2 separate regions of the Homo sapiens genome follow, and region 2 is reported to be linked to region 1. Evidence: microRNA targets listed by miRTarBase, many of them from high-throughput screens and not tested one by one. Region 1 holds a microRNA gene; the other region holds the end of a gene's coding sequence.
What was found. The annotated mature microRNA hsa-miR-744-5p reads UGCGGGGCUAGGGCUAACAGCA and lies in region 1 at 2,826-2,847, opposite strand. An mRNA with a match to its seed (bases 2 to 7 or 8) in the 3' UTR can be bound and repressed. Matches are read on the target gene's strand: a 7mer-m8 pairs with bases 2 to 8, a 7mer-A1 pairs with bases 2 to 7 and ends in A, and an 8mer does both.

Region 2: the mRNA of BAG6 is a reported target of hsa-miR-744-5p. The part of its 3' UTR that is shown has no 7-base or 8-base seed match.

Annotation. Positions count from the first base shown.
Region 1 is chr17:12,077,636-12,084,755 of GRCh38, reverse strand. MIR744 (microRNA 744) reads right to left here and starts at 2,857; the gene lies at 2,760-2,857. It overlaps MAP2K4 (mitogen-activated protein kinase kinase 4), which reads right to left. Exons shown (of 11, transcript NM_003010.4): 3 at 3,226-3,400.
Region 2 is chr6:31,632,644-31,639,763 of GRCh38, reverse strand. It overlaps BAG6 (BAG cochaperone 6), which reads left to right. Exons shown (of 26, transcript NM_001387994.1): 25 at 118-264; 26 at 538-736. The coding sequence ends at 633. It overlaps PRRC2A (proline rich coiled-coil 2A), which reads right to left. Exons shown (of 31, transcript NM_004638.4): 16 at 6,772-7,120; 17 at 6,117-6,385; 18 at 5,775-5,905; 19 at 5,399-5,528; 20 at 5,207-5,292; 21 at 4,787-5,011; 22 at 4,492-4,632; 23 at 4,299-4,370; 24 at 4,015-4,182; 25 at 3,715-3,797; 26 at 3,345-3,555; 27 at 3,156-3,254; 28 at 2,819-3,031; 29 at 2,628-2,722; 2 more. The coding sequence ends at 2,178. It overlaps MIR6832 (microRNA 6832), which reads right to left and starts at 5,977; the gene lies at 5,906-5,977. RefSeq lists a silencer at 4,922-5,085.

The DNA of each region.
Region 1 (7,120 bases):
AACATATAGATGAGGTACTCCTCATCTATATGTTAATTGATGTGTTGTATTGCCATCCTCTCCCATTTCCACCTGCCAGAGAGCTGAGCAGGCACCTACTTTATGTAGAGGACAGTGACTGTTCATGTCTAATGTTTTCATTCAGTGGTTACCCCACCACCGTGCAAAACAGGACACTAAATAAATGTTATTTGTAAAGGATACTGATCACAGTTAGAAGTAAATCCCTGGTAAGAGTTGAAGGTTGTTCTCCCTGAGCTTTAAGAAACCCCAGAGGCAACACTGGCTTTGCCCTAGGCAGCCCTAAGACTAGTCATTCAGGCACAAGTATACAAATTACTCCCACTCACAGGAGAGCAAGACCCTTTTCCCAAGCACGTGCAATTAAAACTAAAGGGTAAACCATGTTCACATCTTAGGTCCTAATGCAGAAACTCACCGATAGCTTGGGAGACTGTCCTCAAACCAAACATCAAAAAATTGTTTTAAGTATAACTCTTACAATGTTACCTCACTAAATCTGATTATATCAAAACTGATTTTTAGATTAAGTCTTTGGGGTAATTAACTCTGGTTACTAAGAAGTCACCTTTTTCAAATATTTCTTATATATGGCAAAATAAATTTGGGGAAGGAATTCCTCAGAACTAAAAATGAGGAATAATACAAAGAAAAAAATCAAGCTAATATCACAGTTCACTTTTCTACAGATATTGCAAGTAAATCTTAAGGATCATTTCCAGCTTAACATCTAATAATGCAATCCTTCTTTATTCTCAAAGTGTGTATTAAGATGTTAGCACAGAGTTACTTCAAGCGTGTTTCTCATTTCACCAACAGCAATGGAAAGCTCTCAGCTGTGTGAACCACCGTCTCATGGTTCCTTTAAAACCGTAAAGTCTCAAATCAAACACCTCCTTAATCATACATTGATTCTGTATATTTGTGCCTGTCAATCCAGTCAATGTACCTAAATGAGGAATGAATGAACTCTCTCAAGTGTGATGAAAGACTATTCTTCTTTGAAGAAACCAATAATAAATGCATTCTTTAATTCAGAGATGGCATACATCTGTCATCAATTGGTATCAAATTTTAATGCATATTAATGCAAAAACACTTATTCTTCCAGTATTAATGAAGTCATGGAATCCAAAGGTACTCCTCAACTATATGTTAATTGATGTGTTGTACTGCCATCCTCTCCCATCCCCAACTGCTATGCTTGTTCAAGAATTCGAGATGGTAAACGAAGCTAGGTAGTACCATGTGGTGGGTATACATGTGACAGCAACCAGTTTGTAGGTCTCATGACTGCCTTGAAAGTTCTTCAAGTACAGCTGGGATTTTTAATAGCATCCCAACTGGAACTGTCACAGTAGCCAGTAGCCACTGATAATGTAACATTACAAATGATGGACAACAATTTCCTATTTTCATTCTTGAATTCCTACAAAACTTGAGTAAGCATTATACAACCCAAAATATTATCAAATTAATCAGTGAGAAAAACTTTTAAGTGTCAAAAGGAAGTACCCTCTTTACCTTTATGACCTTTTTAACAATGGCTAAAATCAATCCATATTACTAAAATGTTTAATAATGTTCATCAACAAAGTTGAAGCACACATAACACAAACTGTAAAAAGCAGGAAATAATTTTTTAAAATTACTTTCCCTAGTACCTGAAAGAAAAGTTTACAACTTTAACTATATAGGAAACCTTTCCCTTAAGATCCAGCCAACTAAAACTGGATGTCACACACAGGTAGCACAAAGGGACAACACAACATTCATCCAGGAGTCTAAATAAAATGACTCTTTCCACTTACACTGCAGTGGCACAAAATAGGAATACAGAAATCATTTCACATTCCAATAAAACATTTTATTTTAACACATAATGCAGAGTTCTTCACCTGTGCATCTTTAGAGGTCTACGGTTTGTATACAAAATGTTGTGTATATACACCTGCCTATGAAAAGTCTATAGTTCTCACCACATTTTAAAAATACAGCCAAAAACAATGTTAGGAACCCATAGAGAGAATCATAAAAATTTTCCCTACCACTAATTTAACATTACTTTCATATGACCCAGCAAAAAGAAATGCTCAACAGTGAAGGATACTAAAATAGTTACAGTAAGGTTTGGCTCACAACAGACTTCTACACAGAAAGCATTTTATTTTAATTTAAATTCATTCTCAAATGTCAAGAAAAAACTAAGGACTCTTATCAACCACTCTGACAAACTCTCAAAATAGGACACTAATAGGAAGATGATTAGCTTGGACTATATGCAAATCCATTCTGAATTCTTGTAAACTGAAACATTTTTGTTCCCATAGGAATTTTAAGCTCAGAGAGGGTATGGCCACAGCTAGCTTTTTTTCCTTTGTTTTTGCAAGTTGTTCCCCCTGTTGCTGATTTTCCTGAAATATCTTACATACAGCAAAGATTTGTTAAACATCTAAACAAACAAATGAATAAATTACAATTACATGAAACTAGGAGTCAGATGGAAACCACCAGTTCTTTACAGGTACCAGCATAAGCTTGCCAGGTATTGTCTATGGATCAAATCTCTGTTTCTGGCCATTTTTTTTTTTTAATGAACATATTAAGTGGCACGACACAATAAGGACAAAATGTGACAACATTATCACAAGGTATGCATTTCAGTACAACTTTAAAACCAGGGAACAGGGCAGTACTGAGTAGAGATGAAATAAACAAACAGAAGCCGAGCCGGTCAGGACCGAGTAAGGTTGAGGTTAGTGGCAACAGCATGTGCGTGGTTTCCAGGAAACCTTCAGTAAGACTGCTGTTAGCCCTAGCCCCGCACCTTGCCCAACCCAGTGTGCTGCGTCTTCTTCCAGCTCCCGCCTGGCTCAGTGCAGCACTGCCCTGCTCCCAGGGGTGCAGCCGCCCAGCCTGAACTCACCTTGGCAGTAGAAGGGCCTGAAGTTTAAAACATGTTAATGCATCATGCCAAAAATGCAATCAACATGCACACTTCATACACTCATGTTTCCAAAGAGATAGAAAATGTGCCACCAATAAGAAACCTCTACACAGAACACCCTCAAAGGAGTTGGAGAAACAATTTTTTAAACACCCACATTTACCACAAAAGTAGGAACACAACAACAGTGGTATTACTGCACCATGAAATTTCACCTAATGGATTAAAGTACCAAAAATAATCATGGCATCACCTACTTTAACTGCCATTATTTGCCCACTTGGTTTGTGGACCATTTTGTTGACAGAACCATAAGCTCCTCGTCCAATTTCTCCAAGGTCTTTCAAGTCCTCTGCAGTGAAATCCCAGTGTTGTTCAGGGGAGATCTTCAGTTTTCCTGATGACTCAATGCTGTGTGTTCTCAGTCTCTCTCTGTTAAAATATTGGGAAGCAATTTTTCCACATTTTAAATAGGTTTTAACTTTTTTCTTTTAGTACTGATTAATGTGTGGGAAAAATGTTTTCTAAATTACTAAAATAGTCTGACCTCCAGGTTTTTGAAGTTTTTCATTTGTGTCATCCTGGTTTTTTACACACTGGATTAAGAATGATCTAGATTTAGGTAGTCAATAGACACAGCTTCAACGGGATTCATAAAAACAAATTGCCAAGAAGATTTTTAAAAATTCCCATTTATTGATTAAACTAATTCTGCAGATCAGTTTTCATTTCTAAATATAAGATCTTATTCAAACTTGGATGATGGTTTATCCAAACAGCATTATCAAGTGAGAATCCCAAGAGCTGCAAACCTTATTGCGAAAAAGTTCTTACCCTATCTTACCCAACATTAGTTATTCCAGTGCCTCAATCTTCAGTTAGTACAACTATTCCCAAGGTTTGCTGTACCTTACAATCACCTGGGGGAGATTTTAAAAATCTCAATGCCCAGGTATCGTCCCATAGCAATTACATCTGAATTATCCAGGGACAGGAGTCAGAAAACAGTATTTTTAAAGACCCCCAGATGATTCCAGTAATGTTTGGGAACTAGTGCCTTAGTATACTGTCCTGTTCTTGTTAATACCATCCTGAGGTGGGAGAACAGTTAACTGAATAGCTAGCTGGCTCTAAGAGGAAAATTGCCATGTGCTATTCAAAATTGAAATTTTCAGCCCTCGTTCGATAAAGCAATGGGATAAAAAATGAGTGGCTCGTAGACAAAAGAGCTCACTCATTACATATTTCCATTAAATAAAAAATCATCTCCAAAATCTCAACCTGGAGATCAAAGTATTAATAACTTCTAACCATGCTTTGTAAAAAAGTAAATCCAATGAAAAATGTAAAATCAATCTGTTTCTCTCTCTTGCTCTCTCTCACACACACACCAAACCCCAATGTGTAGGAACAAACTATCAACCATACACACAATGAAAGAATTCATTAAATATCAACTACATTTTTCAGTTTCATACTAAATGATCAGGATCTCTTTTAAACTCTGATCCTATGATGCAAACAAGCAAAGTTTATGTGCTTGGTCATTATTTTTCTTCTTCCAAAATTTAGGAAAGTTTTCTCCAATTAGTAGAATGGTTTTCTGTAGCAACCTTTAAGGTTCCCAAAAAACTTAGAACTTTAAAATCTACCCCCACTCTGAGAATAATCGTATGTACTAATATTAAGGTTCAAAGTTACACTTCAAAGATTCATACACTTGGTCTAAATAACAATTTACTAAATCAGTGTTCCAAATAACAGACTTTCAAATCATACTAAGTGATAAGCTTTCATTCATACAAGTGCTTTTCAGTTCAAAGTCCTTTCACCCATATTATTTGATACTCTAGCATCCAGAATCACAAGAAGCCCGGAAATCAGTGGCATAAGTGACCATTTAGGTGAAGATGAAGCTGGAACTGATCTTTTAAGATGGAAATCAGGTCTAGGCAAAAATAGGAAACTCTTCTTGGTAATCTTTTTCATGAAGTAGACAGATTAAGCCTGAAAAAAGTTCTAACATGAAGAAGTTCCATGTATAATGATTATTGTTCTATAATCTTTGGCAAGTAAATACTATCTCAATGGCAAAATCACTGGTGAAATATACAGCACCAATCTACCACTGAGGGAAGCTGAAAAAAAGTTAATTAAAATTACTTGTAAATCAGAAGCAAAATTTTTTACAGTGTTCGCTAATTGAAGGGCTGTGGCAGACAGGCTCCAGGAAGTCCTCATGATCCCCACCTTCTTAGTGTTCGTATTTTTGTGTAGGCATATTTCTTTGGGTGTGAGTGGGACCTGTGACTTACCTCTAACCAAGAGAATATGGTAAAGATGATATAATATGACTCTCATGACTACATTGCTATATAATACTTATGCTAGCATTCTTGAGAACTGAAATGAAAGATATTTCATTACTATATAGAAATTACAGAATGAAAACAGTTACAATATTATGTCTTATTTTAAAGATCAAATTTTAGTATTATGGAATATCTCTACTAATAGTTTAGCTCACTGTAGTTTCTTTTTAAAACTGAATAAGTTGAAAGCGAAGTGATACAGGGTACCTACTTGGGCTAATATCCAAAAACTGAATAAGGTGTCAGATGCACAATTCTGTAAATATACTAAATATACTAAAAGCAAATGAACTATACACTTTAAATGTGTAACTGCAGAATATGTGAATTACATCTCAGCAAAGCTGCTAAAAGAGGAGAATGTGATTCCTACCCAGAGTTCCAAGTTTCTCATTTAGAAAGAAAAAGTGCTGTAAAAACCACAGAAAAACATGCCACAGTTATGACATCACCAAGGCATGTTCATACATTCGTCTTTATACTGGGCTAGCGATCTTTCCAGCAAAACTGAGTCCATTTCACAGCAATTGCTTTAACAGTAGGTACAACCACAATGGCTTCCACAGGACTATACACAGATACAGCACTGGACTGACTAGATACAGGAACTGGACCAGAACCTTTCCATTAAACTCTGGAGTCAATCAATTTCTGTCCTAAACTACGTAAGAGGCCTAGGAAAGAAAGAACATAAACAGTAGAAAACACACCCAATGAGAAGATTGGTGAAAAATACAAACCAATAAAGATGTAAAGTTGCCCTTACTTGTTCATAAATATTTGCCTACAATTATACTCTTAAAGAAAAAAAAAGTTCCCTGACTTTTCCTTGGGATATCACTTTCTTCAGAATGGGGACTATATTTTATCAAAAATAATTCCTAGTACAATTGGATTGTTTGTAACACAAAGGAAAAGTGCTTGAGAAGATGGACACCCAATTTCCCACGATGTGATTATTACACATTGCATGCCCATATCAAAACATCTCACATACTCCATAAATATATACACCATGTACCCCCCAAAATAAAAATAATTCCTAAATATCCCTCATCTTTCCCTTCATAATTTTCTGTGCATTATTTTATACAGATCACCCTTACCTGCCTCCAATGAACACTACATAAGGTTCCAACCCCAAGGTTCTCATTACCAACCTGGGAAACTCAGACAACAGCCGCTGTGGCAGTAACTATCAGCTGTCACCCAACATCCATTCTCCTCTTCATCCTCCCTAACAGGATCCTCATTTATGTGTGGCAGCAATGCACCCAGCTAAAAGGCTACATTTCCCAACTACTATGAACTGAACTGTGTTTCCTCTCAAAATCCACATGTTAAGGCCCTAACCCCAAATGTGACTGTACTGAAGACAGGGCCTATAAGAAGATAATGAAGGTTCAATGAAGGTTAATGAAGGGTGGGGCCCTAATCCACTGGGATTAGTGTCCTTACAAGAAGAGAGACCACAGAGTTCACTCTCTTCTCATATGCACAAGAGGTCACTTGAGCTCAGAGTGAGAGGTGGCCACCTATAAACCAAGGCAGGACGCCTCAGGTTAAAACCTACCTTGCCAGCACCTTAATCTTGGACTCTCCAGTCTCGAGAATTGTGAGAAATAAATTATGTTGTTTAAGCCACCTAGTATGTGGTATTTTGCAGGCCAAGCTAAGTCACCAACATTCCTTGCAGTTAGAGGTGGAAAATAGGAACACAGTACTTAAAAGGAGCTAACTCAGTTGGAAAAAAGACTCTTTTTCTTTTCCTCCAACCTCC
Region 2 (7,120 bases), not on the chromosome of region 1:
CTCTCTCCACTAGCATGGAGACTCAGTGGAGTGGTTGACTCATGGAAAGGGTGAGCCGGATGGTGGCACTGGATCTGACGTTGATCCTCTTTTCCCTCCCAACCCCCTGTCCCCCAGACGATGCAGGGTGAGGGCCCCCAGCTGCTTCTCTCAGAGGCTGTGAGCCGGGCAGCTAAGGCAGCCGGAGCTCGGCCCCTGACGAGCCCCGAGAGCCTGAGCCGGGACCTGGAGGCACCAGAGGTTCAGGAGAGCTACAGGCAGCAGGTGCCACCTTGAAGCAGAATAGGGATGGTCTAGTGGGAGGGGTTGGGCTAGGGTCCCTCTTCCCTGGATCCCTTCAGCGATGAACTGGTCAGCCTGGTGCTACCATTTGTTTTCCCCTTTGGCATCTGGGAAGGCTTGACAGTGCCACCCCGGGCTATTTGACAGTGTGCTTGGGGGGGGAAATGTTAGCTTCTGAGGGATGGCCTTGTGTGCTTGCTGGGATCATGGGGACTTGGCCAGCGTTTCTCCAACCTGCTTACTTTTTCTCTTTAGCTCCGGTCTGATATACAAAAACGACTGCAGGAAGACCCCAACTACAGTCCCCAGCGCTTCCCCAATGCCCAGCGGGCCTTTGCTGATGATCCTTAGCTCTTTGCTCTATGGCCCTTCCTCATCAGGGGACCGTTTCCCCCCTCTTCCTTCACAGTATTTAAGAAATAAAAGTCGGATTTTTCTGGCTGCTTTCTCTCTACATTGTCTCCATTAGGTAGTGTGTCCCTTAATCTTGTGTGAACTTTTTTAAATTAATACTTCCTTGGAACACTGTTGTGTTCTACTCAGCACGCTAAATTGTACAAGCCAGTTTTGATGTTTGTTTTTTTTTTTTTTTGAGACAGAGTATTGCTGTCTCCCAGGCTGGAGTGCAGTGGCCCGATCTCGAGCTCGGCTCACTACAACCTCCACCTCCCGGGTTCAAGTGATTCTCACTCATGCCTCAGCCTCCTGAGTAGCTGGGACTACAGGCGTCCGCCACGACGCCCGGCTAATTTTTGTATTTTTAGTAGAGACAGGGTTTCACCATATTGGCCAGGCTGGTCTCGAACTCCTGACCTTGTGATCCACCCGCCTTGGCCTCCCAAAGTGCTGGAATTACAGGCGTGGGCCACCGCGCCCAGCCTGATGTTTGTATTTTTTGTGCGAAAGCACTTTATATATAAATAAAAAACCTGTATTTTGAGTTGGGAGCATATTCCAGGTGCACACTAGCATAGAGCTCTCAAATTACCCATCAAAAAAAGTTTCTGAGCAGCTGCAGACCTAAGTATAGTCTTTAGCATAACTAGCATGCAGCGTTACCATGTGAAATCCCACTTAGTTTGACAATGCTGGAATTGGTCTATCCAATTCAAAGAGCCCCTTAAGTGTGCTCCAACATTGAGGCCTTAACAGAGATTTCCCCTTAGTTCATCATAAAGAACTGAAGTCCCATGGCTGCAAATTCTTTGCTAGTCCCTTTGAGATGCAGTTGAAGTCCCTTCTAAACCCCCCCATCCCCTACCTTGGCTAGTTTAGTGCTCTTATCAACTAAGCATGGCATAAGCTTAGAAAATTCCAGCTAGACCTCTTGGAACATGAGCTCACGGACATTTAACAGGCCTGCTGGAGAGTCCATGTGAAGACACTGGTTGATAACCCAGTAATGTTACAGATGTCCCACCAAGGCCCTAGATATGCAAAGGAAGCCATATTGGGACCAGCCCAGGTGTCAGCTGCAGACTGATAACCAGTTGACCTCGCTCACTGGCACAAAAAAGCAGATTTATCCAGCTGAGCTCAGCCCAAATTCCAGACTCACAAAAATTTAAAGATCCAATACGATGGTCATGTTTTTAGTTTCAACAGCTCACTGGAATAAGTAATGAATATTTCCCTGACTGAAACTACAGATCACTCAGCACCATGCTTTAAGACAATGCAAACAACTCATCCCCCAAATCATTGTAGAAGTTTTTTTTTTTAAATCCTTTTATTACTCTTTTTTAACAAACAGCCCCAGGGACAGGGGACCAGGGGAAGGGGGAGGAGGGGAAGTGAGGCCCCAGCCCCAGAACCCCTCCCCGCCCACCCCTTTCCCCCTTATATATTTATAATCTATATACAAGCCCCGGGGGTAGGGGGCAAGAGGAACTCCCTCAGCGGGGTGGGGGCAACCCAGGCTCCTTGTCCCCTCGGGACCCAGGCTCCTCTGCCCGTCGGGAGGGCCCTTCTCGAGGTGGCGGCCCTGTCCGCTCCCAAGGCTTAGGTATCCAGCGCAGGGCATCTGGTGGGGAGGCCTAGGGGACAGGCATGTGTTAAACAGTGAGTCACAGTGAGAGGTCAGCGATGAGACGGAAGGACAGGAAATCAGGTGGCAACTCGAATTTAGAGTTGGGGCCACAAGGGTTTCTCCTTCACCTGCTGGTAAAGGTCGACGCGCTGGGTGCGGAAGACTCCACTGTAGGTGGAAGGCGTGGCCTTGAGACGGGAATTGAGGCCAGAGAAGGACCTAAGGGAAGAAGGGCGTCTAAGGCAAGCCTAGGATCCAGACCCTGGTTCCAAAGTAAGGAAGCACTTGGAAAGTCCACATCCCTATTCCGTTTCACCTTCCAGTTGGGGGAGTCCGTGATGATCCAGGTCCCCCAAGGTTGCTGCTCAGTTTTTGATAATCCTGGAACGGCTTTAGTTCCACTGGATGCAGCTGAGGGGAAAAAAATCATGAGCTGCCTACCTTGAAATACAGAATCCCTACTCCCAAGTCTTGGCGCTCCCTAGCCCCTCAGTTCCTGTACCTTACCTCTGCTCGCCCCAAGCTAGCGGGGAAGGGCCTGGCAGGTGAAGGCAGCACCCGAGTAGCAGGAGCAGGTGGGGGCCGCACAGCCAGGCTGGGGGGCTGCAGAGCAGGGCCCACAGGTAACAGAGAAAGGGGAGGTGGGGCAGGAGGTGGTGCTGGCGGCAGGGAGCCAAAGTTCACCACAGGCAGCTGTGAGTCTACCATGGGTAGAAGCATCTGTAACAAGAAATTTGGGTGTGCATGTTGGGGGCAGGGAGGAATGTCAGAAAACCAGGGAAAATCAAAGCCAGCAACTGGACAGAGAAATCAAATGAAGGGGAAGTGTGAAGATACAATATACCTGCTGGGCAGGAGCCCCTGAAGGGAGAAAGCCACTTTGGCCACCAGGCTGCAGAGGAGTAGAATAAAAATCCGAAGGGGATGGCAGATCCTGGCGTACCTGTCGGGAAACAGGGAGAAATATATCAACCCCCACAAAATCATTCTCCCTACCCTATCCCCCAATATCTAATACCTGCCCCCCTCTTACCTGAAGCAACGATGTGTCAGGCAAAGGACTGGGGCAGAAAGCCGGAGAGTAGAGGAAGGAAGGTGGAGGGTAGAGAACTCCTCCAGCCGGCAACTTCCCCAGCTCTGTAGCTTGCATTGTGGAGAAATCCAGAAACTGGCCCTTGAGAGCTAACCCAGAGAGCAGTGCTGAGGGAGGGGCTGGGCCGGGGGGTAGGTATAGGGGCTGTGATCTGAAAATAAATTGTGGGGAGAAAAGCTGTTAGGAAGCCAGAGTCCTAGCAATGCCTTAAGTCCACTAGCTTCTAGTACCCTAGAACTGTGTCTTCCCCTTCCCTCTCCCCGAAACACATCTCCAAGTACTTCTGTGATCCACAGGCATCGAGTCTTACCTGTAAGGGTGCAGTGAGGGTGTCCCAGGGCGGAAGCCTCCACTGTTTGGATGTAATTGAGAGTCCATGGCTCCCCCAGAGATCTGCAGGAGAGGAGCACGGTTGAAACAGCTTTAGTATCTGTGGTCAAGAAAAAAGATCACCATCCCACCCATAGAAGCAAAAAGTAGGGAGAAAAATGATGTGACAAAGTGGTATCTCACAACTCTGCAACGTAGAAAGGCTTGATTATAAATACATACCAGGCAGAAAAAAATTATTATTCACTGAAGGGGTCATGCAATGGGAAGCGGGGCCTACCTGAGAACTGGAAGGCCCAGCACTGCCATAGAAAACCTCAGGATACAGGCGCTGGCCTGAGGAGCTGGGCTCCGGGACACAGTGCCCAGAATCCAGGTTCTTGGATTGTGGCTCAGCAGAGGCAGCAGCACTGGGAAGCAGCTCCCAGTCTCGTGATACAGGAATGGCCTGGGAAGGAGAGGCCTCGTGGAGAGGGATGTCTGGCATCCTGGACGCCCTGGTCACTCCCAGCAATCTTCCCCAGAAATCTTGGGCCTTTCCACCAAACTCTTACTCCCACTTACCTCAGTGACTGATGCTGTTAGCTCCTTCTCTGCTTTCAAGCTGTCTCCTACCACTAGGCGTAAGTCTGAGTCCTGTGATCACAAGAAGGCAGGAGACATTGTCCCGTGACAGACATGTGTCCTCTATGTCCCACCTTTAGTCCTTCCCTTCTCTCCACCCAACTCAGGATACCCAGATCCAGCCCACACAGACCTTGTCACTAGTGCCAAACTGGACTGGGGGACCAGGTCGATGGGATGGCCGAATGGGGCCAGGCTCTGTGCCTCGGTCTGTACGCTGTGATCGTTCTGTGCCAATGGGGCCAGGGGGCAGAGGCTGCTCCCGGGGCAGCTCCTGGATTGGGCACACAGTAAAGTGCATTGGGGGAGGGAAAGGGAAATCCAAATTGGAATGCCCAGAACACACACGCAGAGAGAAAAAGCAGAAAAAGGTAGGGCCAAAGTCAGATTCCTGGAAACATTCCCCTTATCCTTTTTTGGTCTTTTACCTTTCTGTCCCCATCGTGGGGGGCAGGTGGTGGTCTCCTAGGAGGTTCAGAGCCAGGTGGACCCTCACAAGGAACAGCATTCAGGGGTGAGGAGCCTCCAGGCCTCTTGGGGGGTCCCTCTGCTGCCCCCTTGAGTCCTCCATCAGGGGAACTTCGCTGGCTGCAGGGACCTGATGACACCTGAGAATCCCCACTCAGGTCCACCCCACTGTCAGACTGACTCATCTGAGAGGAGTGGAGAAGGAGCTAGTTAAGTCAGGGTAGAAAGCACCCCAATACCTGACTGATGCACACATACAAACTGCAGAAAGGGGACAGCCAAGTGAGAGAACAGCTCCAGACTCAACCCAGAGCAGGTGGGGGGTATGACCAGTGCTCAAAAAAGTCCCAGCTCAGACACACCCTCCCACCCTCACTCACTTCTGTGCCAGCCACATCCTCAAAAGGACTCAGGGGCTCCATCCAAGGCTCCATGGAGCTGGGCCGGTAACTCTTTCGGCTAGTGGCTGGAGAAGGGAGCACCAACCAGAAGAGAAGTGAGGAGATGACAGTTCAGAAGCCCCTCTCATTCTTAACCCTTCTACCATAGTCCTTTCACTCAGCTTTACTCACCAGTATGTAAACGGTTCCAGATGTGAGGGGTCAGGGCCTCTGTGCCTGTATCTCTGGACTCTGCCTGAGGGCCTGGGCCCTCAGGCTTAGAGCCCAAGAATCCAGAGCTATGAGGAGGTGGCAAAGATTCCTACAGATGAGAAGGGCCAGAAGCAAAACATGAATTGGGTGGGAATTGGGAATTATAGGAAGCCAGGACAGAGTGGGGTGACACAGGGTGTGGGGACAACAAGGGAGACACATGGGAGACTAATACTGAGAATTCTGGAGTAAAAACACAGTGAAAGAAACAGGAAAGAAAACAGAGAAAACATAACCCAGAAGAATTTTCACGAGTAAGAGTGCAGTGAAGCACAATCTCAAACCCATCCCTTACCTCCTGTAGCAGCTCTGGTTTTCTGGGAGGCCGCTCCCGACGTTTAGGGGGAAAGGGACTAACCCCGGCAGAGTCCCGAGGAGTCCCACCCACCCCTCTCACCATTGGCCCCGGCTCCTCAAAGTGGGGGTCTGGGAAAGAGAAAAAGGGTCAGCATCTGCCTGGCTCTGCCACTGACCCTAACTTTTCCTCTCTACTCCACCTCCCAATTCTTCTACCCTTGCTCCCTGCAGAAACGCACCCAGCAGCAGGGTCCCTAGGCCAGGTTCTCCACCCGCTCCCTCCAGCACTTGACCTTCTCTGGGGATGGAGATATTCCCACCCATAACCCCTCCAGCTTACCAGAACTGAGGCCGCTGTTGACCCTCTGGGGCTCGTATCGGGTTGGGGGCCTAGGAGAGGGGCCCTGAGGGGCTTGGGGAAGCCCAGGCTTGTGCCTTGGATGACCCCCTGGTGCAGTTACACTCCCTTGACGGCTACTAAGCTGGGCCAGAGCCTGTTGGATGCCAGCAGGGTTGCTGTGGATAACTTGGTCCAGGCGGAAGACAGCAGAACTGCTGGGAGGTGGGGGAGGCAGGGGAAGCCCCGGGGGACGCTCCTCTGGAGGACGACTGGAGAAAACAGAGCATTAGCTCCAGTATCCACTAAATCGTTACTTTTTCCCACAAGTTATGTTTCCCAACTTCTGCTTACAACCTATTCTCTTCCCTATTAAAGTCCAGGTGTTTTTGAGTCCTTCTAAGGATTCCTATGCATACAGATGCACAGACTGGAAAGCAAAGAACCAGCAATGAATACATAGGTGGGTGTTCTTGACTCTAACACCCTACCAACCGCTTTCCAGTTGCCTTAGCCAGACATGGAAATCCTACTGACATTCTAGAGCCCATGGCCCCTCAGGCCACAATCTCCACTCCACCCAAACTTATCTTTCCCTCAGGCTTTTTCCCCCTCCTCCAATTTTTAAACCACAATAAATTTGTTTGTTCCTACCCACCTTCGGTTCTTGGGAGAGGGCCAGCTCCTCTTGTCGCCTCGTCCTGGCCCGGTCCTTCCTCCAGGACCCCCACCGCCTCCTCCACTGCTGCTGCCACTGCTGCCAGCCTTGCCCCCTGGGCCAGGGCGCCGATTCTGCCGTTCCATGCCTGGCCGCTGACTTGAGAAGCTCCGTTTACTCAAATCCTTGGCTCTCTGGCTCAGATCTCCGCGGGACATGGCTGAAATACCTGGTACGGCTCCACCTCCACCTCCCCCAGGAGTTCCCACAGCCTTGGGTGTCAGCAGTACTGGTGGGGGTGCCTCTTTGTCCCCTCGGCGCTCACTGGTGAAGTCACTGCTCTCTGATG